Regions from separate parts of the Homo sapiens genome. Here region 2 is linked to region 1. The links come from fine-mapping of genetic effects on gene expression. A gene starts in region 1. The other region holds a variant in brackets. All regions are shown on one strand. Distances are from middle to middle.

Region 1 (14,307 bases):
TATTGAATATCCCTTACCCACCCTTCTTCCCAATGAAGATCTTATGCTTACCTTCACTGGAAGGTTTAAGATGTGACAATCTTAATAGATCTTTGTGAGACCAGCCATTTCTCTGTTTATATTTTGTAACTGCCAGAGCAAGGGCCATGCCACCTTTCTCATTGTACCAGTCCGCTATAGCCTTCCGGAGGGCACGACCCCACATGCCACATTTCATGCTTTCCTTCAGATCTTTCTTAAACTGGATAAAAGTAAAGAGATGGGTAGGAATGCGACAAACTTCAGAAACAGCTTTAAATGCTGCTTGTTTTGTGCTTATGTCGGAGCACTGGGAACAAATGGCAAGTGCAAAGAGCATAGGCTCTTGCTTTGTGGTTCTGCCTTCTTGACTAAATGACTTTATTTCTTGTATCACTTCACATCCTCTGCCATCTTCAATCAATCTAATTAAAGCTTCAGCATTTTCAAGGCCCAACTTCTGTTCTTTGATATAATAAGTCCCACCTTCAGAACCGAAACATAAGAACCGGTGTAGTCGATTCATGTCAGTGACTTGCCATACATATCCATCCTGAGAATTGGCTATCTGCTTCTCATTCAGTGGCTGCATTTGGTTTACAGATTCCTCCATTTTTTTTTGTCTTTAGGAAACCTAACAAAAAGGCAAAATGTTATTACAACTAGATGGGCACAATAAAATTACAAAAGGAAAACAAAATGTAGGTTTACTGAAATGTTATTAACTCTTTTAATTTAAAAACATCTTTTAAGTTCCATAGTTTTTCCCTTAGTACAAAATCAATATAAATGTCCTGAAGAAAAATCAGGAAAGGCAGAAAATGAAAGAAAAAAACCATATCTGAATACTTTGAAATGACTACCAGTAATATCTTCAGTTTTTAAAGTGTTTTTGTTTTGTATTCCTATTTTTATAATCTAAAGAAACTAAAAGCCCTTCACAGCAAACAAACAAATCATAGCCACAGTGGTGTGATAATCAGAAGCAACTAAGGCGTCACATTTTTGAGATACAGTGTGCTCCTTCAGAGATTAAGCAGGTAGATCAGTATGGCATCTTGAGGCCCACACAGAGAATAAAAGAAGGGAGGGCAGCAATAGTAGCTGGCACTAAGTAAGAAAGATCATACTCCCTGAAGAATTGTGTAAACATGTTTGGTTGCCTATCTAACATTCATTCTTCCCCCTTCTCTCTTCTCCTCTTCTTGGCCTCATATCCTTCAAAGGAGGCTAGGCCTTTCCCTAGCCCCAAGGGATGGATCTTTATTGCTCTAAGCCAGTGGTTCTCAAACTCAATGTACATCAAAATTACTTGAATTACTAATTGAAACATAGATTGGTGGGTCAGCCCTCTCAGGCACTGCCCTGAGTTTCTTTCATAATTTAGTAGGTCTGCAGTGAGGCCTAAGCATGTATACTTATCACAAGTTCCCAGCTGCTGCTGCTGCTTGACCCAGGCCCAATAATCATGGTGCTCTCCTTGCCACATGACTGGTATAGGGAGTTGGGCATGTGTCATGACTGGCCAGTATGACATGATAAGTCAGCTGAGAACACTTTTGAGGTTTTCTTCAGTCTTAAAAGGGGGCTCAGGCTCTTAAAAAGAAATGTTCCCTTTTCTGCCTTCTGACATTTTCATTTGCAAGTGATGCCTGGAGTGGTAACAACCATCTTCAGACCTTGAGATAAGCCAGTTTAAGATGGCACACCAATATATAAAGAGAGCAGAACAGAAAAAACAAAGAACCTGGGTCCTTGATATCGGGTTACCTGAAACTGCCCTGCTTATACACTTCCTATTATGTCATAAATGTATCCTTATTGTTTAAGCCATTTTTAGGTTTACGGTTTTATGTCATCTGTAACTACCCTCACTCTACTCCTTCCATTAGCTCTAAAACTCCTAGAACTAGCTGTCTGGAAACAACATCCCTCTTTATCCTTCTAATGGAGGAACCACAATTGTCACTTCTTCATCAGTCCACCACTATTGTTACTACAGTATCACTGTTTATTGAGGTCCTTCAATCTGTCATGTTATTTCGGTGCACTGGGCTTCTGTCCATGGCTAACAAAACAGCACAACCAACAAAAACTTAAACCAGCATTTACTGAATACATACTATGTGTAAGACATGAAGACAATTTCTCTCCCATTAAAGAGACTAAAAAAAAAAAATTTGGGCCGGGCACAGTGGCTCACGCCTGTAATCCCAGCACTTTGGGAGGCCGAGACGGGCGGATCACGAGGTCAGATCAAGACCATTCTGACTAAAATGGTGAAACCCCGTCTCTACTAAAAATACAAAAAATTAGCCGGGCGTGTTGGCAGGCGCTGTAGTCCCAGCTACTCAGGAGGGAGGCTGAGGCAGGAGAATGGCGTGAACCCGGGAGGCGGAGCTTGCAGTGAGCCAAGATCCTGCCACTGCACTCCAGCCTGGGGGACAGAGCGAGACTCTGTCTCAAAAAAAAAAAAAAAAAAAGAAAGAAAAAAAATTTTTTTTTCTCCTCATCACAGGAAAATCACACTCATTTGTGGGGATAGAATCACAATGCAAACTGTAGTTAAGTGCTGTAGTAGAAAAGTATTATGAGTGAGCAAGGGAGTATAAAATAATATTGTCTCAATAATCCAGAAAGATTTGTGCAGAGAAGGCAAATTGTGATTAAGTGCTGTAGTGGAAAAGTGAGTGAGCAAGGAAGTATAAAATAATACTGTCTAAATAATCCAGAAGGATTTGAGCAGAGAAGGCAAACTAAAAAACTGATAAAGTTTAGGGAAGGCGCTCCAGGAAGAGGTTTCTGAAATCTCGATCTGTCTTTATATTCTAGAAAAGAAACTGTCTAAGCATCCTGTAGAGCCATAAAGACATGTTGACAGATACGGTCATAACTTAAAGAGGAACACAAGATAAAAGAAGTTTTGTTCTGAAGATCATGCTTACTTGAACATGTTTATATATTACAAGGAAGGCTAAGGATAGAATCTTGGTGAATATTAACCATTAAAAGCTAATGAGAGAAAGGCCTTTTAAAGAGAGACGGAAAAGGAGGTGCACAGAGTTGAAGAAAACCGACAGAGAATAGTATCATGGACTACAAGGAAGAGAACTTCAAGGAGTGAATGGTTGGTAATTTCAAATGGTCAGAGGAAAAGTAAATAAAAGGCTAGAAAATGACCACTGGGTTTAGCAAGTAGGAGTGACTAGTGAGAGCAACTGCAGTAGAGTGGTATAAGAAGTAGCTTGATTACAGTGAGATCAGGAGAATATGCAGTGAGGAAGAAACTTCACAGCTAGACTACTCTTTTGTAGACACATACTTATAAACTATGAAGGAAAGTAAAAGAGGATGGGACTTAGAGAAAAAATCTTTTTACCTTTTTCAATGGGAAGATGCTAACATTGAAAGATTCAATTTGGAGAGCTGAAGATACAGTAGAGAAGGGGGATAACTGAAGGAATTTCTTAAAGAAATGAGAATGAGCTTAGAGCATCCAGGTTGAGACTGGCCTACTGACAGCAAGAGATATTTCCTTTATCTTTTAAGGGTAAAGAGTATAGGTAAAGATAGATTTGAAGGAATGAGGGATAAGGAAACTGAAGACATTCCCCCCTGACAGGAGATGTAGAATGCCAAATGGTATGTGGAGAAGTTTGGTAGAGAGGGGAGGAATGAAAGACTGGGTCTCAGAGAGGGGAACACATAGTGGTGTAGGGATAAGTGCATGGGAGAATGAAGAGCCTCACATTTTGAATGTGACTGAGGGGGACAGTGATCTGAATTGTGTTCGGAATATTAGTGTCAATATTCCAAATAAGACGCTAGTATAAATTTGCTTATGTTAGTGGAAGCCTAGGTCTCAGGTGGCATCAGAGATGTAATGATCATATTAGTCATTAGGGACAAATTCATAGTTACTGAATACAGCATAGGTTGAAACTCCTGTTGCAGTGGATGCCTGTTCTCCTATTTATTATTATCCTCTTTTCAAATTTGGCTTTTATCTCTACCTTTCGATCCAAAACACTTTAAGAAGACTAACATGCTTCTCAAAGACTGATACCTTAATTGCCAATTCCAGTAGACAATGTTATGTTTTTCTGATCTTTACATTACATAGACTTTGCTAGTCTCTCCCTCAGCTTTCATAAAAACAGGCTCTGGTTGCACTTCAACCTGTCTACTTCTGCTTATTAGTTTTATTTGTTAGATGAGTAACACTGAAATGACATCTAATATCAGATAATTCTACTAAACTTGCTTTCCTGCACCAAGGCCCAAGTGGTGGGATTTAAAAGGTCCCAAACCAAACCTCAAAATTCCCTCTCCCCTCAAATTCTTTTCCTTGTATTATTCATTGTGACCACATGTAGCTACATTATTGGTTCCCTTGAAAGTAGAAACCAAATCTTATCATTTTTGTCTCCTCTTTTGTATTGCTTTTATGTAATTAGCAATACATACTTAAAGCCAAATATCATTAAAGTTGACTTTCTGAACCATTTGCCAAATAATTATGCACAATTGGTTTCTCTTTCCCATAACACATTTTGAGAATAAAAGCCTCAATATTTATAATGCAAAATATAATACAAGTCTTTAAGATAAATTCTGTAATCAGAATGATAAATGTACTATATGCAGGTAGTGAAAAATATAATCAAGAAAAAATAAAGTTCTAAAGAAAAGTAATGAATACTGAGTAAAAATGTCATCTAAGAACAAAATTTCTGTTTTTCTAACATATTTAATATTAGGTATTCAGGTACTTCTCTAGAGCAAGCAGCAAAATGAACTTTTAAATCTATGAAGGATGTCTAAGAGGTAATCTCTAAGTATAATCCTTATAATCCCTATTAGAAGAAATAAAGTTACTTATTCATGGACTCTTCCTTTTGCATGTTATGATATAAATGACAACCCTGAGGACATACCCTTTCAGTATTTCTGCAGCAGAAACTGCTCAGGTTTTCCTATGCTTCTGTGACTGTACTTTCCAGAGTGCAACATAAAACAGTGGAACAGATAACATTATTAGCAGCCAGGGCACCTTCCTACTTGATTATATAAATTTACCAGGGTCATATTCATATTTTAAAAGACAGAAAACAGAATAACATGTCCCAAGTTACTCTCCTTCTTGTCACTGAGTGTGATACACACATAAACTCAAAATTCGGCAAAGTGATGTGATACTGTGGCATCTTATAAGAGAGAGTACCTGGTCTTTGGACATAATACCCAGCAGAAAGTTTCAAAAACCCGTGGTATTTCCTGAGAAATAGGAGTGTCTTTGTTACATTAATGAGGCAACATGGGCCCCTAGGTAGCTTCAGGATGGGGGCTAATCACTAGAAAGACCAACTATATGTTTAGAGGAATAAACTGGTCAGGCCAACCTTCCATGAAAGGAGGAGGACTTGAGATCAAGTTCAGCCATGTAGCTAATGATTTAATCAATCATGCCCATGTGATGAAACCTCATAAAAACTTTCTTCATCGATACTCAGTGGAGCATCCTTGGTGAACAAAAACTGATGTGCTGGGAAGGTGATGTGCCCACATTTCACAAGGATGGGCATGGAAGTTCTGCATCCTTCCCTTGCCCCAGACCTTGCCATATGTGTCTACTTCCTGTTTGGCTGTTCCTGAGTTGTATCCCACATTTCACAAGGATGGCATGGAAGTTCTGCATCCTTCCCTTGCCCCAGACCTTGCCATATGTGTCTACTTCTTGTTTGGCTGTTCCTGAGTTGTATCCCTTATAATAAAACTGTAATTGCAAGTAGAGCACTTTCAGTGAGTTATGTGAGTCATTCTAGTGAACTATCAGCCTTGAGGGGATTATGGGAAGTCTTGAATTTGTAGTCCGCAGGGCAGAAGTGTGAGTAGCCTGGGGACCCCATTTACAGCTGGTGTCCAAATTAATGGCATTCTTAGTGGGGACCTTGTCCTTTAATTTGTGGGATCTGATGCCAACCCTGGGCAGCTAGTGCCAGAACTAAACGGAAGTGGGGGACACCCAGCTGATGCTACAGAATTAGTGTTGGAACGCAGACACCAAAGGCAAAAGTGACAAAATAAAAAAATAAACTGGACTTTATCAAAATTTAAAACTTGTATTTCCAAGGACACCATCAAGAAAGTGAAAAGACAACCCAAGAAAAAGGAAAATATTTGCAAATCATACATACAATAAGTGACTTGTATCTAGAATATATTAAGAACACTTACAACTTAATAATAAAATGATAAATAACCCAAGTAAAAATAGGCAAAAGATGTGAATATTACTCCAAAGACACACAAATGGGTAAAGAATCTGAAAAGGTGTTTTTCCAAAGAAGATTATCAAATGGCCAGTAAACACATAAAAAGATGACGAACATCATTAGTCATCAGGGAAATGCAAATCAAAACCACAATAAGATACCACTTCACATCCACTAGGACAGCTATAATCAAAACAATAATATTAAGTGTTGGTGAGGATTTAGAGAAAATGAAACGCTCATATACTGCTGGTGGGAATGTAAAATCATACAGCCACTTTGGAAAACAGTCTGGCAGTTTCTCAAAAGGTTAAATATAGTTAGCATATGACCGAGGAATTCTACCACACACCTAAGAAAAATGAATACATGTATCTAAACCAAAAGTTGTATCCAGATGTTTTTATCAACATTACTCATAACGGTCAAAAAGGAGAAGCAACCCAAATGTCCATCAACTGATGAAGGGATGAAAAAAATATGGTATATCCATACAATGGACTATTATTAGACAATAAAAAGGGATGAAGTAGTGATACATGACACAATGTAAACAAACCTTGAAAACATTATGCCAAGTCAAAGAAGCCAGTCACAAAAGGCCACATATTGTATTACAATTCCATTTATATGAATTTTCCAGAGTAGGTAAATTCATAGAAATAAAAAGTACATTAGTCTAAGGTTGTCAGAGGCTGTCGGAGTGGGGGAACACTGGGAAGTGACTGCTAATGGGTAGGGGATTTCTTTTTGGGTGATGAAAATGTTCAGAAATTAGTGGTGATGACTGCACAACTCCGTGAATATACTAGAACCCAATGCACTGGATACTTCAAAATAGTGAACTTCATGATATGTGAATTATATTCTAAAAATCTATTATTAAAAATACAAACATAAACTAGCCAGGTAAAATATATTTGGAAAGTTATTTAAATAAACAAGCACTTAACTCTGCTATTATCTATATCAGAATGGAGAGCACCAATACAATTGATTACACAAAAATTATATTTAGCCCTACAATTTTTATATTTGACTTTTAAAAGCAATTTGAGATACCCACAAGACATATACAGCAACTTAATTTCTTCTTTCTCCAACTGCCATCATCTCCTGCCTCAAAGCTTAAGCTCCATTATCAGTGGTTTAGAAGGCAATTGGGCAGTGAGTGAGGTCAGAACCTGGTCATCAGTTAATCCATTCCTGGATAATCAAGTGTTGTAAATCCAGATTAACAACAAAAAGATATAGTTAATTCTTTGGATGGGCCTGACCTATCTATCTAGTGCTCTTAAAACACACCATACAACTAATGTTGTATTAAATCTCTATAAATTAAGTTCTTGAGAAGTTAAATATTACAATACTATAATATTAAAAGCATGGACACTTTTTTTTTTTTTTTTGAGACAGACTCTCACTCTGTCACCCAGGCTGGAGTGTAGTGGCGCGATCTCCACTCACTGTAACCTCCGCCCTCCGAGTTCAAGCGATTCTCCTGCCTCAGCCTCCTGAGTAGCTGGGATTACAGGCGCCTGCCACCGCACCCGGCTAATTTTTTGTATGTTTAGTAGAGACGGGGTTTCACCATGTTGGCCAGGCTGGTCTTGAACTCCTGACCTCGTGATCCACCCGCCTGGGCCTCCCAAAGTGCTGGGATTACAGGCGTGAGCCACGGTGCCCGGCCAAGCATGGCCGCATATTAAATTGGTTGTGGATATTTTATACAATGTCCATTTCTCTACTTTTAAATTTAATTTAGAATGCAAAATCAGGAAATGCTAGTAACACACATTATATAATAGCACTTGTTTCACAATCATCAGAACTACAGCATATACAGTATCTTTTATCAGTACTAATGTGTTATTTCCAAGGAATCCTACATTTTTCTTGAATTTACACATCTCAATATCTTCCAAAGTCTCTTTATAATTTATTTGAAAATGCTGCCTTTCATCTCAAGAAGTCAAACACATTTGCAGATTATTCCTTTTTAAATGAAGTCAAAGCTGACATATCTATGAGAGTGCATGACAAATGTAAAGAAACAACAATAGAAAATTGGGCCCATGATAGAGGTTTGTTTACCCATGATACAGGTATCTGAATCCACTGATCAATGTGATGCTATAAAAACTGATGAGGAAGGAACTGTGGCAAAAATGACAGCATGCTAGTCTGAGGGGAGCTGCCAACTGGTTGCCACGTGGTATGGAACTAGTAGTTGCCAGATCTCATTTTTCTCAAAGACCCAGAAATCTGGCTTTTTATGTAAACTCTCAGGATTAAACGTTAACATAATGAAAGGCATCTTAACCCCCTTCTCTGCTTACTTCTAGATTGTGCCAAAGGCTAAATTTTCAGTTTGGTCTTTCTACAATAGGTACCATGTTAATTAAGTTGGGTATCAAGTACATTTTAGTTTTGATGTATTTTGCACAGAAAACATTTTCAAGTTCATAGCAATATTACAGATTAAAAAAAATACCACAAACTACTTTGGGCTCTGATGCCAATCATTCTGGACTCTGTGCCTCTTAAACTTTTCCAATAAAGTATCTCAAGGAAATATACTGTACAGAATCCTCCTAGTCTCCAAGTTGAGGGCAGAGTTTCCGGAGATAAACTTCAAGAAAGTTACAAAAAAAATTTTTTTTAAACCAACACTTCATACAAATTTTGGCTTCTACCCCATAGCGTACTCAGGCTCCTTTTAATACAAAAGCTGCTCTGTTGCTTCCCTCAATAAAATTTACCACGTTTATTTCATGGCTTCACATAATCTGTAGCACAAGGCTCCCTAACTCCAGGGCACAAGTCACCTATTTGAGAAGGAAGGAGTCAGAGTTTTACCCACTAAAACATTTTTTTTTTCTGGAAGCCAAAGGTCTTTCTTGGAATATGTAGCTTTTAAGGAGTAAATATACACTTAACGACTTCAATATACTCTTAAAAACTTTAATCTTAACACTATAGTATTCTATAAGAGCCTGCTGAATGAGGGCAATTTAGTAAATATTTAGTAAATATTTGGTTTAACTCATCATCCAGTTTTAGAACCATTCCAAATGTTTTTAGATTAATACACGACATTTGTTTTCAACCTAATTTTCCCTTGACGCACCGCATCCCCTTCCACTAGTCTAGCAGCCCCATGGACAAACCTTTCTCCTCTCCCTCGTTATTCCTCTGTGATAAATTCACCCTGTCTTCCCACAAAGATCCTTCTTCCAAAACCCAGATCCCGGGCGACGCCTCTCCGCGCAGAAGCCGCGGGAGAAGGAGGAGAAAGAGGAGGAGTAAAGCAGGCCCTCTCGACGTCGGCCTGTGGGGAGCGATGCCGACAAGCAGGAGCGGTCCCGGCTTCGGAAAGGGCCCACCCTGAGGAATGGTCCGGCCGGGCCTAGCGAGGATGTCCCTACCGCGATGCTGGTTCCGTTACCCAGGGTGGACAGGCGCGGAAGCGGGACGGGGAAGAGCGATAGTTTCGCGGCGTTTGCCCAGCCTCAACCCCTGGGATGCGGGTGAGAGACATGGAGGACTGGTCAGAATTTGCGCGTCCCTGGGGCCGCACAAAAGGCTCCCAGCCGGCCTCCCGCAATGTCCTCACCTGTACCTGGCAGCCGACCCCCTGGATCCGCAGCGCCGCCAGGAGAAGTCCTGCGCAGCGCTGGGAAACGACAAAAGAAGGCAGCCTGACGGGCAGCGACAGCCACAGCAACAGCAACAGCCCCACTGCCGCCGGGGATTCCAGGTTCGGTTCCCGGGAACGAGTCCTGCCCCTCTTCTTTTGCCCCGCCTCCGCCCCAGAGGGGCGAGGATCCCGGATGTTGCCTCCTCGGCGCTGTGAATCACCGCCCTTTCTTCTCAGGCCCCAGCCCTTCCGAATCCGCTACGGGTGCTGCAAGGCCTGGGAAGAGTTTCGATGTCTCTAGGGTGGCTAGAGCGTCCTCCCGCGCTCAGTCGCGCTGCAGGTGACGGCGCCCGGAGGCTGTCGGGAAGTAGGCGGGGTGACGTGTGGTTGACGAGCTCGGCGGCGGGTTTGCTGAGATCTGTGGCCGGCGGCAGCTGGTGCGGGGGGCAGCTGAGAGCGAGAGGTGGATCGGGGCGGTGTGTGGCCAGGGCCATGACGGGCAATGCCGGGGAGTGGTGCCTCATGGAAAGCGACCCCGGGGTCTTCACCGAGCTCATTAAAGGATTCGGTGAGAACCAAGGGGACCGTCCTGGGCCTGGGGTCACGGGAGGAGGCCCAAGCTGGGCATGGAGTGGTTCCCTGCGGCCACCGCCGCCCCGCGTCTGGAGAGGTGACTTCAGGAACCTGGAGTCCGGGTGGGGGAAATGTAGATGTTCTGCCCTCTCCTCAGCTCGAGACAGTCGCGTTTCCACAGTAATTTGTAGAGCCACACCACGAGGGCAAGGATCGTGTCAGTCTTGTGCCTGCTGCATCCTCAGGACCTGGCACCCAAATCCTGTAATTGACTTGAGGGCCCTCGCTCCCCAAGCTCTTAAGCACGTATTGCCCTTTGCACTGCCCCTTCTCTGCGGCGCGCACCTTATCCCGGGCTGGTGAGGTCAAGTGCATTGCTCAGGCCATTAGTCCTGCAGAAGCCACCCTAGGGTGCGCCTTCTCAAGGGTGAGGTGTCTGCGGCTCAAGCCGCCCAGGAACTCGAGATTCTGGTTATTCAAAGCAGAACGCCTTGAATGTGTGAATAGCTCTTCGGGACGTCCACACACGCTGACTGCGTGGGCCTGAAAGGCCACTTCACTGGTTCCGCTCTCTGCTCATTTCTGGCTTCCGGTGAAGTGAGTTTTCTTGAGCTAGTGTTCTAGACTAGAGGCCACATGCTTTCCTCACAGTTTCTCTCTGGCTGTATTTAGTGCCTTTCGTCCTAAATAATCAACACATTTTACTTTTTATCCTTCCCTATTTATCTTGTTCTTAGTCTCTTCTTTGGACAGTACGTTTTTATCTATTTCCCAAGTGTTATTGACTCTACGATGTTAAAACTTTTACGCGGGATTAACAATTAAACGTTGATGTAGATATTGCCTGTTGTACACAGCTTAATATTTGGAATGTCATTTATCAAGCATATGTTGTTCATCTTCTATATCTCAGGCACAGTGGTAAGGATTGGGAAATTTTCTTTTTTTTGTTTGAGACAGAGTCTCGCTCTGTCGCCCAGGCTGGAGTGCAGTGGCGCGATCTTGGCCCACTGCAACCTCCATCTCTCGGGGTCAAGCGAATCTCCTACTTCAGCCTCCCGAGTAGCTGGGATTACAGGCACGCGCCACCATGCCCGGCTAATTTTTTTTTTTTTAGTAGAGACAGGGTTTCACCATGCTGGCCAGGCTGGTCTCAGCTCCTGACCTCGTGATCCACCCGCCTCGGCCTCCCAAAGTGTTGGGATTACAGGCGTGAGCCACGCGCCCACCCAAGGATTGGGAAATTTTCATGTGAATAAACCATAACTGCTGTTTCGAATAATTGACAGTCAAACTATAATATGGTGTGTTAATTGCTATGTTAGAGTATATACAAAATGTTAAAAGTACACAGGTCATGGAGGAGCACAGCCAGAAGGAAAAGCATAAACAGTAGTGATGTTAAAGTATATGGGTTAGCCAACAGCTAGCAAAGTGACTAGAACATAATATAGCAGACTGGAGGAATATTTATTTGGATCTGAAACTGAAAAGATAAACTGAGGACAGATTGTATGCCATGTTGTATAGTTTGAATTGCCCTGTAGTGACTGGGGATTTACCTATCAAATATATTTTAATGCTGAAATGACATTATTTTCATAATTAAGGTTTATTGTGCTTTTAAGTGTGCAGGGCAGGTTGGAATAAAGTGAGAGAAGCTAGACATCTCTTAAAATGGTTGGAGTCCGAGATGATTGGCTAAACTAGTGGGTTAGGAAGGAGGAGTTAGATTCAATAAGTTTGCTATATTTAAATCAACAGTTGCATGTGGTAATGTCTGCTCTTCATTCCTTTGGGAGCAGAAATACATCCATAACACGCTAAATTAAAAAAGGAGTTCTCAGGGCTGCCAACCTTACAGTAGAGGTTGAGTGGTAGTATATTACTCCTACATAAGAGAAAAAAAATCAAAAGGACTGCTTACTAAAAGTTGGGGAAAAAAAGAGGCAAAAATAACTCCCTGGTTTCTAGCCTGGGTGGCTGGTGAAACACTCTTACAAGTGAAGAGCAGGCTTGATGGACAAGAAAATGGATTCAGATTTGGACAGACACTGAGTTTGACATGTCTGCAGATTTAGTCATATATTTTACGTTCAAAACCTTAACAATATGTTAAAGTTAACTTTCAGAAATGTTGTACTAGGTAAGTTTGTTTTTACTCCTTCAATTTCATATGTGCAGAAAACTTGGAGATCATGCATGAAAGAATGATATATAAATTCATCTTCTGTACATGCACATATGAAAAATCAGCAGCTATTAATAAATTGGCTTCATTAGCAGAAGAACCTGCAAACAATTAAATGGTGGTAGTTTATGTCACCATCAGATGCTTCAAAGAGAAAATCAGTTTATTCCAATTATTTCCATCATTTTCATTTTTTCACCCAATTTATAGATTTAAAAAAGCTTTTGGCTGTTGATTCTTTCAAAAATGAAATACCTGTATTGTGAATGCTGTCATAAATTCATTTCAAAAGTTCCATCATTGAAAGGGAAATGAATTGTAGATGCAGTAAGTATGTAAATACAGATTTTGGTAGAATGTAGTATCATTAAATTAAGAAACTGGTGGAGCAGAACTGTACTTTTAATTGGTATGGTCCACACATAATACATATGTGTGCCAAAACAAACCGTGATGGTCTGTTAATAAAAACAGAAGCTGTAAATATTTGGTTACAGCCAAGATAGAGTAATGGGGACTAGATTCATTTTTCTTACAACAAACCAGTGACCCCAGCTTTCATTTTAATAAGAAAGTAGAAAACCTAGAGTAAGCAGATGACAGGAAATAATAAAGATCAGAGTTGAAATTAGTGGAACAGAAAAGAGAAAAAAATGGAGAAAATACATGAAACTAAGAGCTGTTTTTTGGGGAAGATCAATAGAATCACTCTAGCCAGACTGATCAGAAAAAAAGAGATGTTCCTGTATTTCAGTATAGGAATGAGAGAGGTGACATCACTAAAATTTTACAGATATTAAAAATAATATTATGAACAACTATGCCAATAAATTTGACAATTTAGATGAAATGTACAAATTCCTTTAAAGACACAAATTACCAAAGTTCACTTAAGAAATAGATAACCAGTATATGCCCTGTGTTTATTAAAGAAATGGAAATTGTAGTTTAAAATTTTCCCACAAAGAAATTCTAGCCAAGGTGGCTTCACTGGTAAATTCTATCAAATATTTAATATTATAAATAATACCAATTCTACATAAACTCTTCCAAAATAATTGGAGAGGAAGGAATGCTTCCCAACTCATTTTCTGAGGACCAGCATTATCCTGACACCAAACCAGACAAAGATATTACTAGAAAAGAAAATTGCAGACCTATATCCATCATTAACTTAAATGTACAAATTTTAAACCATTTTACCAAATTGAATTTAGTAATTCATTAAGTGAACAATACATCATGACTAAGTGGGATTTACCCCAGTAATTTAGGATTGGTTTAACATTTAAAAAATCAATGTAATGCACCATATTAATAAGCCAAAAAATCAAAAACATGATCATGTCAATAGATGCAAAAGGCATTTGACAAAATCTAACATCTGTTAAGAATTATTAAGTGTTAGATTTTATCCTGCTTGCCAGCAAATAAGTTGGCTTGCCAGTTTCATAGATGCTAGCAGACAACTTTTGGTTTAGAGATAAGGGTTGTATTACTTATAGCATAGTAGGCAGCAGGAGATTCATTTTCACATTGGTTGCCTTTTCCTCCAAGTCCATGAGGCTGGAGGTGGGCTCTGGTGGATGCTGCACAAGTAGTGAGGCTGT
Region 2 (15,256 bases), 110 kb before region 1:
ATTTTTTACTGTTTAACTAGGAAATTTCACTATGAGATTAACATAGCCTTAAAAAGTAGAAAAAAAATTCCTATTGACAGACATTTCTAAGGCATCTCCAAGAATTTCAATGTATCATTTAGACATTAATCCCAGAAGGCAGATGATGTATATTAAATACTAAAATGGGATAGAAAACCCACTACCACCAAATTTTACAGTAATAAAATTGTTTGCTGCTCCTATGATGATTCTTTAATGCTCTGTAAGACAATGTCCTCTGTCTGCTATGCCACCTAAACAAATCCTTGGCAAATGGATCCAAGGACAACTTCTCCTAAAGAGGACATGCTGAAGATTTTTTGTCTGTTCATAATCAGTATCCATGACCAAGCCTCAAAAAAGCAAAACAGTTCTTGTGTATACAACATAATGGAGTTGATGCTATGTTGCAATAAATGCCTTATTACTGGGAAAAGATCAGGGAAACGGTTTAGGGGCCTATGTTCCTAGGGTCACACCACCATGAGGGAGGGCCAACACAGCCCCAAAAGTAACCACAAAAACTGACTGCCTGGGCCTGATACAATGCAAAATGTTGTCTGAGCCTAGAAATTAATGAACAAAGAAAACTAGCCCAATGTTTCACATTTGCTTAACATTTAAAATTTGTTTTAAAAATGTGTTTAAAATTTTATTCCCTTATCAGGGATCTGTTTGTCTTCTGAAAAGGTTAATGAAAAAAAAATAACTACAATCTTCTTCCTAACAGATTCATGCAAGAGAGGGAAGAGAATGACTCCTATATACTTCAGAGAGAAAGCTAATAACTGAGCAAAAAAAAGACAAGTAAACTTGATTTTTACAAAAGTAAAGTTTTAATCAAAGGTCATAAGCAAAACCTCTAATTTAGAGTACAATTATACCTCTGTATCTGTGGGGAATTGGCTCCAGGACTCTCTGCAGACACCAAAATCCACAGATGCTCAAGTCCCTTTTATAAAATGGCATACTGTTTGCATATAAAATATGCACATCCTCCTGCATACTTTAAGTAATCTCTAGATTACTTATGATACCTAATACAATTTAAATGCTATGTAAATAGTTGTTATGCTGTATTGTTTAAGAAAAAAATAACTCACACAAAAGTCTATACATGTTCAGCACAGGCGTTCTGGGTTTGGTTTTTTTGTTTTTTGTTTTTAATATTTTCGATCGGCAGTTGGTTAAATCTACGGATGTGGAACCCACGGATATGAAGTGCCAACTGTGTCTGTATGTCTGTAAGTCATGTACACTTAATATGAACTAAAACCTAAGTTATCTTCTATCATCACCTTTGCCACTTCTTTCTCTTGCTATTGCCCATATCCATTTAACCCAAAGACTTACTTGGATCCCTACTGGAATCCATCTACTTTTCTTCATCTTGCCCCTATTTAAAACAGCATCACTCATTTTTTAACTACTGCAATACCTTTATAGCCAGTTTCCTCATATCCACATAATCTGTTGCCAATATTACAGCCATAATGTTACTTTCAAAACACAAAGCTAGGCATGCCATCCCACTGCTTCAATGGCTTCTCAAGGTACTATATACCAAAATCCCTAAAACCCTTGGCCAGCTACAAGGCCCATAAATGATTCTCTTCCTTGCTAAAGCTAATCCCTCTACCCAATCTTTTGATCCCATTCATACCTTCTATCTCACTGTAAATTATTCTCTCTCCCTCGAGACTTATTTAAAAGAAAAAAACAAAAAATTCCTGGATAAGGAATAGTGAATTACAACTTGACTCAATGAAACAGTCTCACTCTTTTCGTTTAAAGCATTTTCATTTCATTTAAAGGAAAATGTTTTACAGTATCAAATCAAGTTTTCTCTATAGTGAGAAAGGGTAGTAGTGACATGGAGAGAAGGAATTCCAGAGATGTCAGCAAGTAAGGTCTACAGGCCTTCATGATGGCTGGATACTAGAGATGAGAGAGGAGTAAGTGACAAGGATGATGCCTAGAACACTGGCCTGAACACTGACAGTGCCATTTACTGAGAAAGAAAACACTGTATAAAGAATCTGATTCGCCAGGAACAATGTAATAAAGAATCACCAAGCAATGTATGAAAGGATTGTCAAGTGGCACTTGAGGGCCTATATATTACAAAGCATCATTAACAGTAATAATGAATTACAATTACCACTCTACACCCATATGAAAGTATGGAAAATAACTAAAAATATAATGTATAACATAGGCTTCAGATTCATTTGAAAATACTTTTCAAGCAACATTTACATGCAAAATACTCTGTTCTCAGTACTGGAGATATAGTGGAAGGCAAGAAAGACATAGTTTCTACCTTCAAATTCATATATTTAAAGAAAGATTATCAAAGGAAACAAATGAACAACAAGATAACTAGAAGAAAAAGGGTCCTGAAAAAGTTGCTGATGAACTGAGATCTGAATTATGAGAAGGAATCAGTCTTATTAAGAGCAAGAGGAAGAATGTTCCAGACAAACAACTGGAAGGAGAAAGGCTAAGAGGTAAAGAACTTGTCAAGTTGTTGAAAAACTTAGAAAAAGCCACCGAGAAGACTTGTAGCCAAGACCTTTCTTAATATGTACTGCCCCTTTAGAGCATGGAATTGTGGATAGAATTCAGAAGAAACGTAATGGGAAAAAAATTTACAATTTTATTTTCATTAATCTCTTAATGAAATTAAGACTTTCTTCAGGAATGCAGATAAACCACAGTATTATTATTATAAATGGTTACAACTTTGTCACCAACAAAAATCAGATTTTTTCATAACATATTAGAATAAAGATATCCCAAAATTACATATGCTCATTAGACTTCTAAAATCTGGTATTTATCAAATTTGCCACTAGATCATGTTACATAATGCATTAGTAAAGAAGCACAAATCATGTCATAAATGTGTTTTTAAAAAATATCTTGATTTTACTTTAAATACAATTGGTTTTATCTTATGTATTTTCTTTTATGCCTTAAAAATATATTCAGAAAGAGGATTCACAGGATTTCCAGTCTGCCAAATGCACCAATGGCACAAAAAAATTATGAACTACAGCAAAAGATACTTGAGATTCCTAACAACTAAACGCAATTTATGGTGCTTGTTTGGGTCTTATTTCCAACAAACGAATTACAAAAAGACAATTTTCAGGAAATCGAAACTGTAAAATGAACTGTGTGTTAGGATTACATCAATATTATTTATTTTGTTGTATACAATGGCACTGTGGCTATGTAAAAGATGTCCATATGTTTAAGAGAGGCAAAGTGTGCAGGAACAAAATCACAGTGTTTAGATTTTGCATTTAAATACTTTAGAAAAAAAAGGAAGAGGTGGAACAGATAAGGAGAGCCTTTAAAAATGGTAATTATACAATCTGTGTGATGGGAAGATGGAAGATCACGTGCTATTTTCTCTCATTATATTTACGTTAGAAATGTTTTATAATTAAGTAATTAAGAAAACCAAGAAAAAGAAATAGAATAAGGCATACCCTTTTAACAGCTGCTTCACAATAAGGAGCCTCTCTAAAGGAAAAAGATCACAAAAAAGCACAACCTGCAGAGAGCAAACCAGAGAACAAGACTCCTTTCTCTAGGCTTATGTTGCCCTAGGCCAGGTTGCCTGACTTGATGAGTGTGCAATGTAACCAGGGATTTTCCTCTTTTCTCCACCACTGTGCTCAGGAAGACTGCAAGAATCCCTAAAACTTGCTATAGTATTCATATTTTTTGACTATGTACTCTATCTTAAGGCACTCATGCACTCATTTCAAAGAAAAAATAAACCTAAATCCATTATGTCAGTTGTCTGGGCCTAGAAAATTAAGTCTTTGATCAAACTGGTACATCTTGGTATTAGATACAGCAATGGTTTAGGAACAATAATCTTATAGTCTTAAGTTACCAAGTAACAATCAAGTTTAGGCCTTCTATTTAGGTGGACCTGACAATTCAGAACACAGGATGGCAAAAGGAAGAGGGAAAAAGGATGCAGTGCCAGGTAACTGTAGTCTTCACAACTGATAGAAAGCAAAACGTCTGAATGGAAGAGTGATGGAATGCTTGACTTAGGCAAGTGGGCCATACAAGATGGTTCCCGGGTTGTCAAAAAAATGACAAGAACTGAAAGAGAACTCTTCATTTATGTTAACTGGGATGAACTATCCATCTCTCGGATCTTAGCATATTTAAGGTAGGAACACATAAAAGGCTCTATAACCTGCAGGAAGGTTGGCTCACTAATTCTCTCTTCTTCCCTAATCTATTTATACTGTCCTGCTCTCCTAATCTGTCATCAAACTCAGCAGTCTCTCACCAATCAACTGCTTATCTTTCCACTGCAAATCAATACAAAAAAAAGAAACCTCATAACTTTATCATATGCTGTTATAAATCAGTTGGATATCTTAGCATAAATATTACTCATTTTAAGTAATTTTCTTAAAAAAAAAAAAAAAAAAGGTACCAAAAATCAGCCAGGCGCAGTGGCTCACGCCTGTAATCCCAACACTTTGGGAGGCCGAGGTGGGTGAATCACTTGAGGTCAGACATTTGAGACCAACCTAGCCAACACGGTGAAACCCCATCCAAACTAAAAATACAAATATTAGCCAGGTGTGGTGGCGCACACCTGTAGTCCCAGCTACTGGGTAGGCTGACGCAGGAAAATCACTTGAATCCAGGAGACAGAGGTTGCAGTGAGCTGAGATGCCACTGCACTCCAGCCTGGGCGACAGAGAAAGACTCTGTCTCAAAACAAACAAAAATCAACTCTGTTTAACATTAAGCAACCAAAAATTCATAAAATTTTTATTCTTCCAACACTAACAAATACATCTTTTTTTCATTTATTAAAAAATATTGATTGAGTGTGGTGGTATGCAGAACAATGGTTCTCCAAAGATTTCCATTCGCCCTAGCCCCCAGAACCTGTGAATATTTTAACATTACATGGCAAAGTTACTTTGCAGATAACTTTAAAATAGGGAGATTTTCCTGATTGGCCCAGTATAATCACATGGACCCTTAAGAGGAAGGGAGAAGAGTTAGAGAGAAACACAGCAGAAGAGAAGAAGAACAAGGGAGAGTCAAAGCATGAGAGGGACTGTATCCACCAATGCTGACTTTCAAGATGAAGGAGGCCATGAACCAAGTGGCCTCCTGAAGGTTGAACTAGCCCTCAGTTTACATCCAGCAAACAATCAGGGACCTCAGTCTTAAAATCACAAGGAACTGAATTCAATCAACAACCCGAAGGAACTTGGAAGTGGGTCCTTCCCCTAAGTTTCCCAAAAGGAACACATTGCTGTTGACACCTTGACTTCAGTCTATGAGACTCTAAGTGGAGGCCTCTCCCTAAGCCACGATATACCTGAACCTTGGATTTACAGAACTGTAAGAGAATGTTTTAAGCTGCCAAACTTCTAGTAATTTATTACTGTGACAATAGAAAATGAACAGAGGTATCTACTTTGTCCCAAGAACTCTGCCAGGTACTGGGAATATCGCTGGGACCTAGACAGATTGATACCCTGATAGCTGGGACACAGACTCAACCATGTGCAGTGTTCAGCAGAGGCTAATTCTTTCTTGATCCTGTTTGCCAATAGTTCCTAAAGCAATTTGCTTGCCAGTGTGTGCCTCAGTCTCCACAGTTGAAAGACAGCAGTTATCACACAGGGCTTTTCTCTGGAGGGGTAAACACTTGTGAGTTATCCATATAGTCCTTGGATAACCTGTGCAGACTTAACTGCCTCCTGATGCTGAAATGCATCTCCCACAAAATGTGGCTGTGCCCCCTTTGCTCACAGATGTGTTTTAGAAAGATGTTGCCTCCAGTTCAGGGTGTAGCACTTACTTGATGGGATAATTAGACATCAAAAGTAACTCAACAAAAGCAAAAGATGACAAATAGGATCTAAGCAAAAGAGATTCTGCACAGCAAAAGAAACTATCAACAGAGTAAAAAGAAAACCAACAAAATATGGGAAAATTTTTGCAAACTATGCATCCAACAAAGGTCAAATATCCAGCATCTATATGGAACTTAAACAAATAAACAACAACAACAACAAAAATCATTAAAAAGTAGGCAAAGGGCATGATCACTTTTCCAAAGAAGACATACATCACCAACAATCATATGAAAACAAGCTCAACATCACTAATCATTAGAGAAATGGAAATCAAAACCACAGTAAAGATACCATCTCACGCCAGTCAGAACGGCTATCAAAAAACAAGATGCTGGCAAAGTTGTGTAGAAAAAGGTAGGCTTACACATTGTTGATGAAAGTGTAAATTAATTCAACTATTGTGAAAGAAACTGTGGTGATTCCTCAAAGACCTAAAGAGAGAAATACCACTGAACCCAGCAATCTCATTACTGGTTATATACTCAAAGGAATATAAATCATTCTATTATAAAGACACATGCATGCGTATATTCACTGCAGCACTAGTCAAAGTAGCAAAGACATGGAATCAACCTAAATACCCATCAATGATAGACTGGATAAAGAAAATGTTACATATACACCATGGAATACTATGCAGTGATAAAAAAGAATGAGATCATATCCTTTGCAGGGACATGGATGGAGCTAGAGACCATTATCCTTAGCAAACTAACACAGGAAAAAAAAACAAATACCACATGTTCTCACGTATAAGTGGCAGCTAAATGATGATAATACACAGATACATAGAGGGGAATCACACATACTGGGGCCTGTCGGAGGGTGGAGAGCAGAGAGAGAGGATCAGAAAAAATAACTAATGGGTATTAGGCTTAATACCTGGGTGATGAAATAATCTGTACAACAAACCCCCATGACACAAGTTTACATGTGTAACAAACCTGCACATGTACCCCTGAACTTAAAAGTTAAAAAAAAAAGAAATAAAATTACAAAAGGGATCACACTAAGAAAAAATATTTGTCAGGATTTTATTTTCAAAAACTCATTTGGAAATACATCTTACAGCATTGCCTCTTATTGCTTTATAAAATCCAAATTCATCATTAACAAGTTTCATTTAATATTCTTGCATCTCATAAGATAAACAGGAAAGTAATTTTATCTACAGTACATAGGCATCAGCCATTATGCAACTGCCTCCATTCTTACAAATTTATTTTTTATTTTTTTTTGAGACAGAGTCTTGCTATGTCGCCCAGGCTGGGGTGCAGTGATGTGATCTTGGCTCACTGTGACCTCTGGTTCCTGGGCTCAAGTGATCCTCCTACCTCAGCCTCTTTAGCAGCTGGGATCATAGGCATGTGCCACCACGCCCAGCTAATTTTTGTATTTTTAGTAGAGACAGGATTTCACCATGTTGGCCAGGCTGGTCTCGAACTCCTGGCCTCAAGTGATACACCGGCCTTGGCCTCCCCAAGTGCTAGGATTACAGGTGTGAGCCACCATACCCAGCATCATTCTCACAAATTTAATGTTAAAGTTCATATTTTTACTTAATGCATATGCCAGGTATGGGTGTGTTTAAATAGCATCCTTCTTAAAATTCATCTAAACATCAATTTCTAAAGACATAAAATGAGACAAGTACTAATTACTTGAATTAGAAATAAACAGTTGCCTCCATATCCACTGATAAAAATTTAAGTCAAGAGTAAGCAAAATACAGCAGTGAGCCAAATCCAGGCTGCTACTTGTTTTTGTATGGCACACAGGCCAAGACTGGTTTTTACACTTTAAATGGTTGAAAAAAAAATCTAGATAATCAAAAGTATTATTTAAAATGTAAAAATTACACGAAATTCAAATTGTAGCATCTATAAAGATTTACTGTAATGCAACCAAACTCATTCATTTACCTATTGTCGATGACTGCCTTTAAAACAGCAGAGGTCAGCCAGACGCTGTGGCTCAC[G/A]CGTGTAATCCCAGCACTTTGGGAGGCTGAGGCGGGTGGATCACCTGACGTCAGGTGTTTTGAGACCAGCCTGGCCAACTTGGTGAAACCCCGTCTCTACTAAAAATACAAAAATTAGCCAGCCATGGTGGCAGGCGCCTGTAATCCCAGCTACTCAGGAGGCTGGGCCAGAGAACTGCTTGAACCCGGGAAATGGAGGGTGCAGTGAGGCAAGATTGCGCTACTGCATTCCATCTGGGTGACAGAGAGAGACTCTGTCTCAAAAAAAAAAAAAGGCAGAGTTAAACATGGACAACAGAAACCTTATGTGGTACTCTCAGGTTTAGTTAGCACTGCCAGTTGGCACAATACAAATCACAAAAAATGCAATTATATTGCTTTACCTTACTTTAATCCTCCAAAAAGCATGTAACACTAAATTTTGTTTGTCCTCCCTCCTATTTATATCCCCAGGGCCTACAATACTGCCTAGCATACAGCAGGCACACAGCAAACATTTCCTGGATGAATGCAAAACACAGCATTTTGTGTGCCAAGCATTTTGTCACATAAGGACATCTGAATTTTATTTTTTTAATTACTGGTACCTACACCACATTAAAACAAAAAGAGGCTGGTACCTACTCATCACATTAAAACAAAAAGAGGCCAGGCACAGTGGCTCACACCTGTAATCCCAGCACTCAGAGGTGGAGGCGGGCAGATCACTTGAGGTCAGGAGTTTGGGACCAGCCTGGCCAACATGGTGAAACCCTGTCTCTATTAAAAATACAAAAATTAGCCAGTCGTGGTGGCAGGCATCTGTAATCCCAGCTACTCAGGAGGCTGAGGCAGGAGAACTGCTTGAACCCGGGAGGCAGAGGTTGCAGTAAGCCAAGATTGCACCACTGTACTGAAGACTGGGCAACAGAGTGAGATTCCATCTCAAAAAAACAACAAAAAAACACAAGAAAAGTAGTATGCTCTTTAATGTACAATAAAATCAGATGGCAAAGCACTGTTTACCATCTAATGCAATGACACTACAACTGTGCTAAAAGAATACAATATAAATATTACCAGACTAAGCCCTCATTGCAACATTCCCAACTCAGATGAAAGGAATGGTCAGAAAACACAAAATTTCTTTACAAAAATTAAAAAATTAAAATTAGGCTGTGAAGCAAATTTGAGAGGTTCCTTGTTAGCCAGGGAAGGAAAATGGTTAATCTATGGTTAATTAATTAAATTTGATTTGATTAAAGCAGTCAAAAATGTATTCAGAGGAAATAAATTTGTTTTAGACTATTAGCCTTTCACTACTGCTTAATGAGTTGAGGTCATGGTGTAGCAACATCAATTGTCAATCAGAAGTCAAGGCAAATGACTGAGTGGTTTTCTTTGGCGCTTGTTAACATGTTACTAATACCACTCAGTTATGGTTTATTCGAGGAGTCCAAATCATGTTTTGAAGTGGCTGAGGAATTAGCCTCTATGAGTAGCCTACATAAAAAAACTACAGGCAGGAGTAATTTCAAAGTAGTTCAGAAAACACTAATGAAGTACAACCTGAAGGGGAATCTATTAAGATGCTGATGCTACCAAACAAATGGTAGTTAAAACTATGTGTGGAGCTGAAAACAGCTCAGATGGGCAAATTTAGTCCATCTAAGAATTCTACTACACTATTTTCTTGATTATTTGCAGATTTATCACTGCCAAAGGAGGGTTATGTGGAAGTTCCCCAATTACATAGTTAATGAATTTTGAAATAATACATAAAATCTCATTATAAACCAGCATTGATGAATTTGCAATCAATTTTGGTCATAGAGAACACTAACTTGGAACTTCAATTAAGCAAAATGTTCCCTCACACCCAAAAAGAAATTCCATTATTCTCATTATCAAATCAGTATTGCACATTATTATCATGCATTGTACTTGTCATTAAAAATTTGTGACCAGCCTGACCAACACGGAGAAACCCCGTCTCTGCTAAAAATACAAAATAGCCGGGCGTGGTGGCGCATAACTGTAATCCCAGCTACTCGGGAAGGCTGAGGCAGGACAATCGCTTGAACCTGGTATGCAGAGGTTGTGGTGAGCCAAGATAGCTCCACTGTACTCCAGGGGCAACAAGAGCAAAACTCGGTCTCAAAAAAAAAAAAAAAGAAAAAAAGTGTGAAAATTTGATTTATCTCTTGTTACATAAGCACCTACATAATTTCCGTGGTTTTGTCTATCGGCCTGTAAGCCTAAAGTACTTAGTTTCTGGCCCTTTAAAGAAGAGGTTTGTCAATCCCCAACTTAAATCATTACATTTAAACCATTTTAAATCACTGTAGACTAAAAAATGTAAGGCAATAATGAAAACACACTTAAGGCTGGGCGCAGTGGCTCACACCTGTAATCTCTGCACTTTGAGAAGCCAAAGCAGGAGGATCGTTAGAGACCAGCCCGGGCAACACAGTGAACCGTGTCTCTACAAAATATACCAAAATTAGCTGGGCATTGCAGTGCATGCCTGTGGTCCCAGCTGAGGTGGGAGCAGTGATTGAGCCCAGGAAATAAAGGCTGCAATGAGCTCTAACTGTACAACTACATTCCAGCCTGGGTGACAGAGCAAGACCCTGTTTCCAAAAAGAAAGAAAGAAAAAAAAATGCACTTAAACTATACAAACTCCTGCTATATTACTTACTTTTGCTCATACCTGACTCTTCATTTTTATATTATCATTAAAAATAATTTCACATTAAAGTTTCTAAGAGTTCAGCTTAGATAACAAACACTGGTTTTGGAAACTAGGTTTTATGACTAACTTGATAATTGTTTTTTAACAAAGTCAACCTAAAATTACAAGGCATAACAGAACTTACATGTAAAACTCATAGTGAAAGGATGGCTGGCTTATTTTTATGGGCAAACACCAAATATCAATACAGTGTAAGTAAATAAGGGCACATATAAAAATGGTAGGTTGTTCCTTACAGACCAAATGTTAGCATGCTCAGCTTAAGTGTACCAGTGGAGACCTCAACCACATTTTGATCAATTTTATGCATATGTGGGAGGGAGAGAGAGATACGAATGCATGTGCATGCATCCATGTGTGAAAGAGAGAAAAAGACTAATTATTTTCTTCTATTACTGAAAATGGTTCTGGTAATTTCACTAAATACATTTTATGTAAATACAATCAAATGAGTAAAATGTAAACAAAACTTTTACACAATCCACCAATTATGAAAAATATTTCATGCTTTGCATTTATGCTGTATGTATCTTCACGTCTTTCAAATATGTCACAGCAGAATTTTTTAATGTGTCCATCCTGAGACTGTGTAAAACGTTCATCCCAACATATAATTATTACTTATCTACTGATACATAAAGTCTTCTTTATACTTCTCTATTTGTACTTTACAATGATACTACTTTATTTGCACTTTAACCATATTTGATTTTTTACTCATATTGACTGCATTCTGAATCTTAAGTACTTTTATACAATGCTAAGAAACACTTAAATTGTAATGTCTTTGCAGCACTGAAATTACTAATTGGGAGGGTGAGGTTTAAGGAGCCTCATTAATTTGACTATCAACCTGTAATAAGTGAAAGGTAGAGAAAGTGATTTCCATGCTGAGGAAAGTGGCATACACCTGCAATCTCAGGTACTTAAGGCAGGAGGATGGCTTGAGCCCAGAGTTCAAGTCCAACCTGGGCAACGTAGTGAGACCTCATCTCTTTAAAAAGAAAGAAAGATTTCCAAAACCCAGCAGGAAATCCCTGCTCTTCTCTCCCCTTCCAAATCAACAAAGCTAAATGTGACTAATCCTAAATTTACAGCTCAAACGTGCAGAAAGGTCAGTCTATCGCTCCTCACCTCTCCTGTGATAAATCAGATCCTTTGGATATCTACATTATAAATCCCAAATTCAAAAGAGCTAGTTCCCTCACCAACACTTTTTAACAAATCAAATAGAATGGAATGAAACACAGTCCTAAAGTTGACTCAGTAATCTATACATCTAAAGAAATAACACATCATATCCATCTGGCAAGGGATTAGTCAGACACAACAAGGAATAGAAATCACAATGGCAAATCAAAACCTATCTAAGCAGTGCCCAAGGGGAAAGGTACCCTGGACTTGCAACAAGTCCTTTTTTTTAATGAAGAGTTAAAAATAACAGACTACTTTAATACCACTAAACATTTGAAGGATATAATTTATTATATGCTCATTGCACAGTACACTGTGATTTCCAATGTAGCTTTACACAGAGAACATGTTATGTGCTAGAGGTGAGAATCCAGTGCCCTTGTTAATTACATTTATCACTGCAAATTAATAAATCAGCATTTGATTTCAAATGCTACTCTCATAAGCTTAATTAAAATGAATCAGTTTCTCATGGTATACTAACATTACTTAGTTTCTCAGCCTTTCTCTGGGCTACAGCAAATTACTAACATAATGCCACCCTATGAGACAACTCAGGATTCAGGCAGCTGATCAACCATAGGCAACAAAACCTCCACACTGCTGTTCATCACCAGCAGTTATTTCTCCTTTGATCTGTTACACAGAAAATATGTTGACTGAAATTATTCAGTCACTTAGAACCAGTTACTATGTACTATGGACTAGTCTTCGATGATCTACAAGAGGTTTCTAATATAAAATGTAAATGTAATACTGCCAGTATGACACAATGAAGCATAGTTTTGTAAAATCTACTATACTGGGCTGGGCATGGTGGCTCATGCTTGCAATCCCAGCACTTTGGGAGGCCACCGATCACTTGAGGTCAGGAGTTCAAGGCCAGCCTGGCCAACATGGCGAAACCCCATCTACTAAAAAGTACAAAAATTAGCTGGGTGTGGTGGCGGGCACCTGTAATACCAGCTACTCAGAAGACTGAGGCAGGAGAACAGCTTGAACCTGGGAAGCGGAGGTTGCAGTTGATCCAGATCACGCCACTGCACTCCAGCCTGGGTGACAAGAGTGAGACTCCATCTCAAAAAACAAAAAAATCTACTATACTATAGCCTTTTTACACTGATGTTTAAAGCTTTAAAAGTTATACAAACTTTTCAAAAATATTAATGATGACTCAGAAAGTTAGAAATAATACAAATGTCTATCACAGGTGCCCCAAAATTGGTACCTATCAATTTATTAGAAAGTATTAGATGATTTATGTCTACTGCAGTTAACCTAGGTAAAGAAAAATATTTTCCAATATCAAGTTATTTAAATAGTTACGTTCTTGAAGTTTCTTCTTAAAGTAACTTCTTTTTTTGGGGGGCGGGCAGGGTCTCATTCTGTTGCCCACGCTGGAGTGTGGTGGCGCAATCATGGCTCACTACAGCCTTGACCTCCTGGGCTTAATCAATCTACCTGCCTCAGCCTCCTGAGTACCTGAGACTACAGGCACATACCACTACGCTCGGCTAATTTTTGAATATTTTTGTAGAGGCGGGATTTTGCCAAATTGCCCAAGCTGGTCTCGAACTTCTGGGCTCAAGGAATCCACCCGCCTCAGCCTCCCAAAGTGCAGGGATTACAGGCATGAGCCACTGCGCCCAGCCTGTTAACTTTTCTAGGAGGGGGAAAAAAAAAATATACACACACACCCACACACACACACACACACACACACAACCCCACAAAGTTCTTGATGAATTATAATGTACCTACAAATTTACTATCAGAATAATTGGTAATTATTCTGTCACTCTAAAACTCAGTAATTCCTAAGGATATTGTGAAATACCTTGTGTAGCTAGATAAGTTACTAAAATATTATAATCCTATCAGAAGCTGAATGGGGTGTTATTTTCTAAAAGCCATCTATAGAACACAAGTAAGAATTCAGTAACTTCTGAAAGATCAAAAAGCTGCTTTATTTTAGTTCTCAAGTTTGGTATAATGAAATATATTAGGAATTCAATTCCAGAATATTTATGGCACCACACATAAGACAGAAATGACAAAAAGACACTGTAGAAAAACTGGAGCATCTCTCCAAAAATACCAAATTTGGGGAGGTAAATGATTACAGGATTGATAATGTCCAGAATTCACTGTAGAGGATGATAAAAGACTGAATCAATTTTAATTGTAATGTGTAAAAATGTTAAACTGGCGGGGTGTGGTGGCTCACGCCTGTAATCCCAGCACTTTGGAAGCCTGAGGTGGGCAGATTACTTGAGGTCAGGAGTTCGAGACCAGCATGGCCAACATGGTGAAATCTCTACTAAAAATACAAAAAATTGCCAGGCCGTGGTGGTGCACGCCTGTAGTCTCAGCTACTCAGGAGGCTGAGGCAGGAGGATTGCTTGAACCTGGGAGGCAGAGGCTGCAGTGAGCTGAGATCATGCCACTGCACTCCAGCCTGAGCGACAGAGTGAGACTCTGTCTTCATATGTGTATATATATATATACACTATATATAATATATATGTATATATAATATATAGTATATAGTATATATGATATATAATATATAGTATATATAATATATCATATATACTATATATTATCTATTATATATACTATATTTATTATATATTATATACAATATAATAGATAATATATAATATATATTATATACAATATAATAGATAATATATAATATATATTATATACAATATAATAGATAATATATAATATATATTATATACAATATAATAGATAATATATGATATATATTATATACAATATAATATGATATATATTATATACAATATAATATGATATATATTATATACAATATAATATGATATATATTATATACAATATAATATGATATATATTATATACAATATAATATGATATATATTATATACAATATAATATGATATATATTATATACAATATAATATGATATATATTATATACAATATAATATGATATATATTATATACAATATAATATGATATATATTATATACAATATAATATGATATATATTATATACAATATAATATGATATATATTATATACAATATAATATGATATATATTATATACAATATAATATGATATATATTATATACAATATAATATGATATATATTATATATTATATATATTATATTATATGATAGATATATAATATATTATATATTATATATATTATATGATAGATATATAATATATTATATATTATATAATATATTATATATCTATCATATAATATATATTATCTATTATATATTATCTATTATATATTATATAATAATATATATATGCGTGTGTATAAATAAAGTTAAATTGACTTGATTTCAAAATAAAACTCTAATTTGATCTTATATAGTTTCAAAAATCTAAATGTAAAAATA

Direction of the effects. Alleles are on the strand shown, and positions count from the first base shown. SD is a standard deviation of normalised expression in the study named.
As copies of G replace A in region 2, the expression in tibial artery of the gene that starts at base 10,074 in region 1 goes down (moderate effect, 0.51 SD a copy in GTEx).

Evidence for each region. PIP is the estimated chance that this variant, and not a neighbour inherited with it, causes the effect.
Region 2: its variant is the best candidate, but not a certain one, in a credible set for the expression of RO60 in tibial artery (GTEx, PIP 0.62).

What each region holds. Positions count from the first base shown.
Region 1 is chr1:193,055,379-193,069,685 of GRCh38, reverse strand. RO60 (Ro60, Y RNA binding protein) reads right to left here and starts at 10,074. Exons shown (of 9, transcript NM_001173524.2): 1 at 9,910-10,074; 2 at 52-652. The coding sequence starts at 631. It overlaps UCHL5 (ubiquitin C-terminal hydrolase L5), which reads left to right and starts at 10,326. Exons shown (of 11, transcript NM_001199261.3): 1 at 10,326-10,501. The coding sequence starts at 10,426. It also overlaps SCARNA18B. RefSeq lists enhancers at 9,175-9,907, 9,975-10,504, 9,908-10,640, 10,665-10,974.
Region 2 is chr1:193,161,472-193,176,727 of GRCh38, reverse strand. All of the region lies in intron 10 of CDC73 (cell division cycle 73), which reads right to left. Among named protein-coding and RNA genes, the nearest start is that of B3GALT2, 18 kb to the left of the region's middle. The variant G/A (reference allele first, on the strand shown) is at 7,924.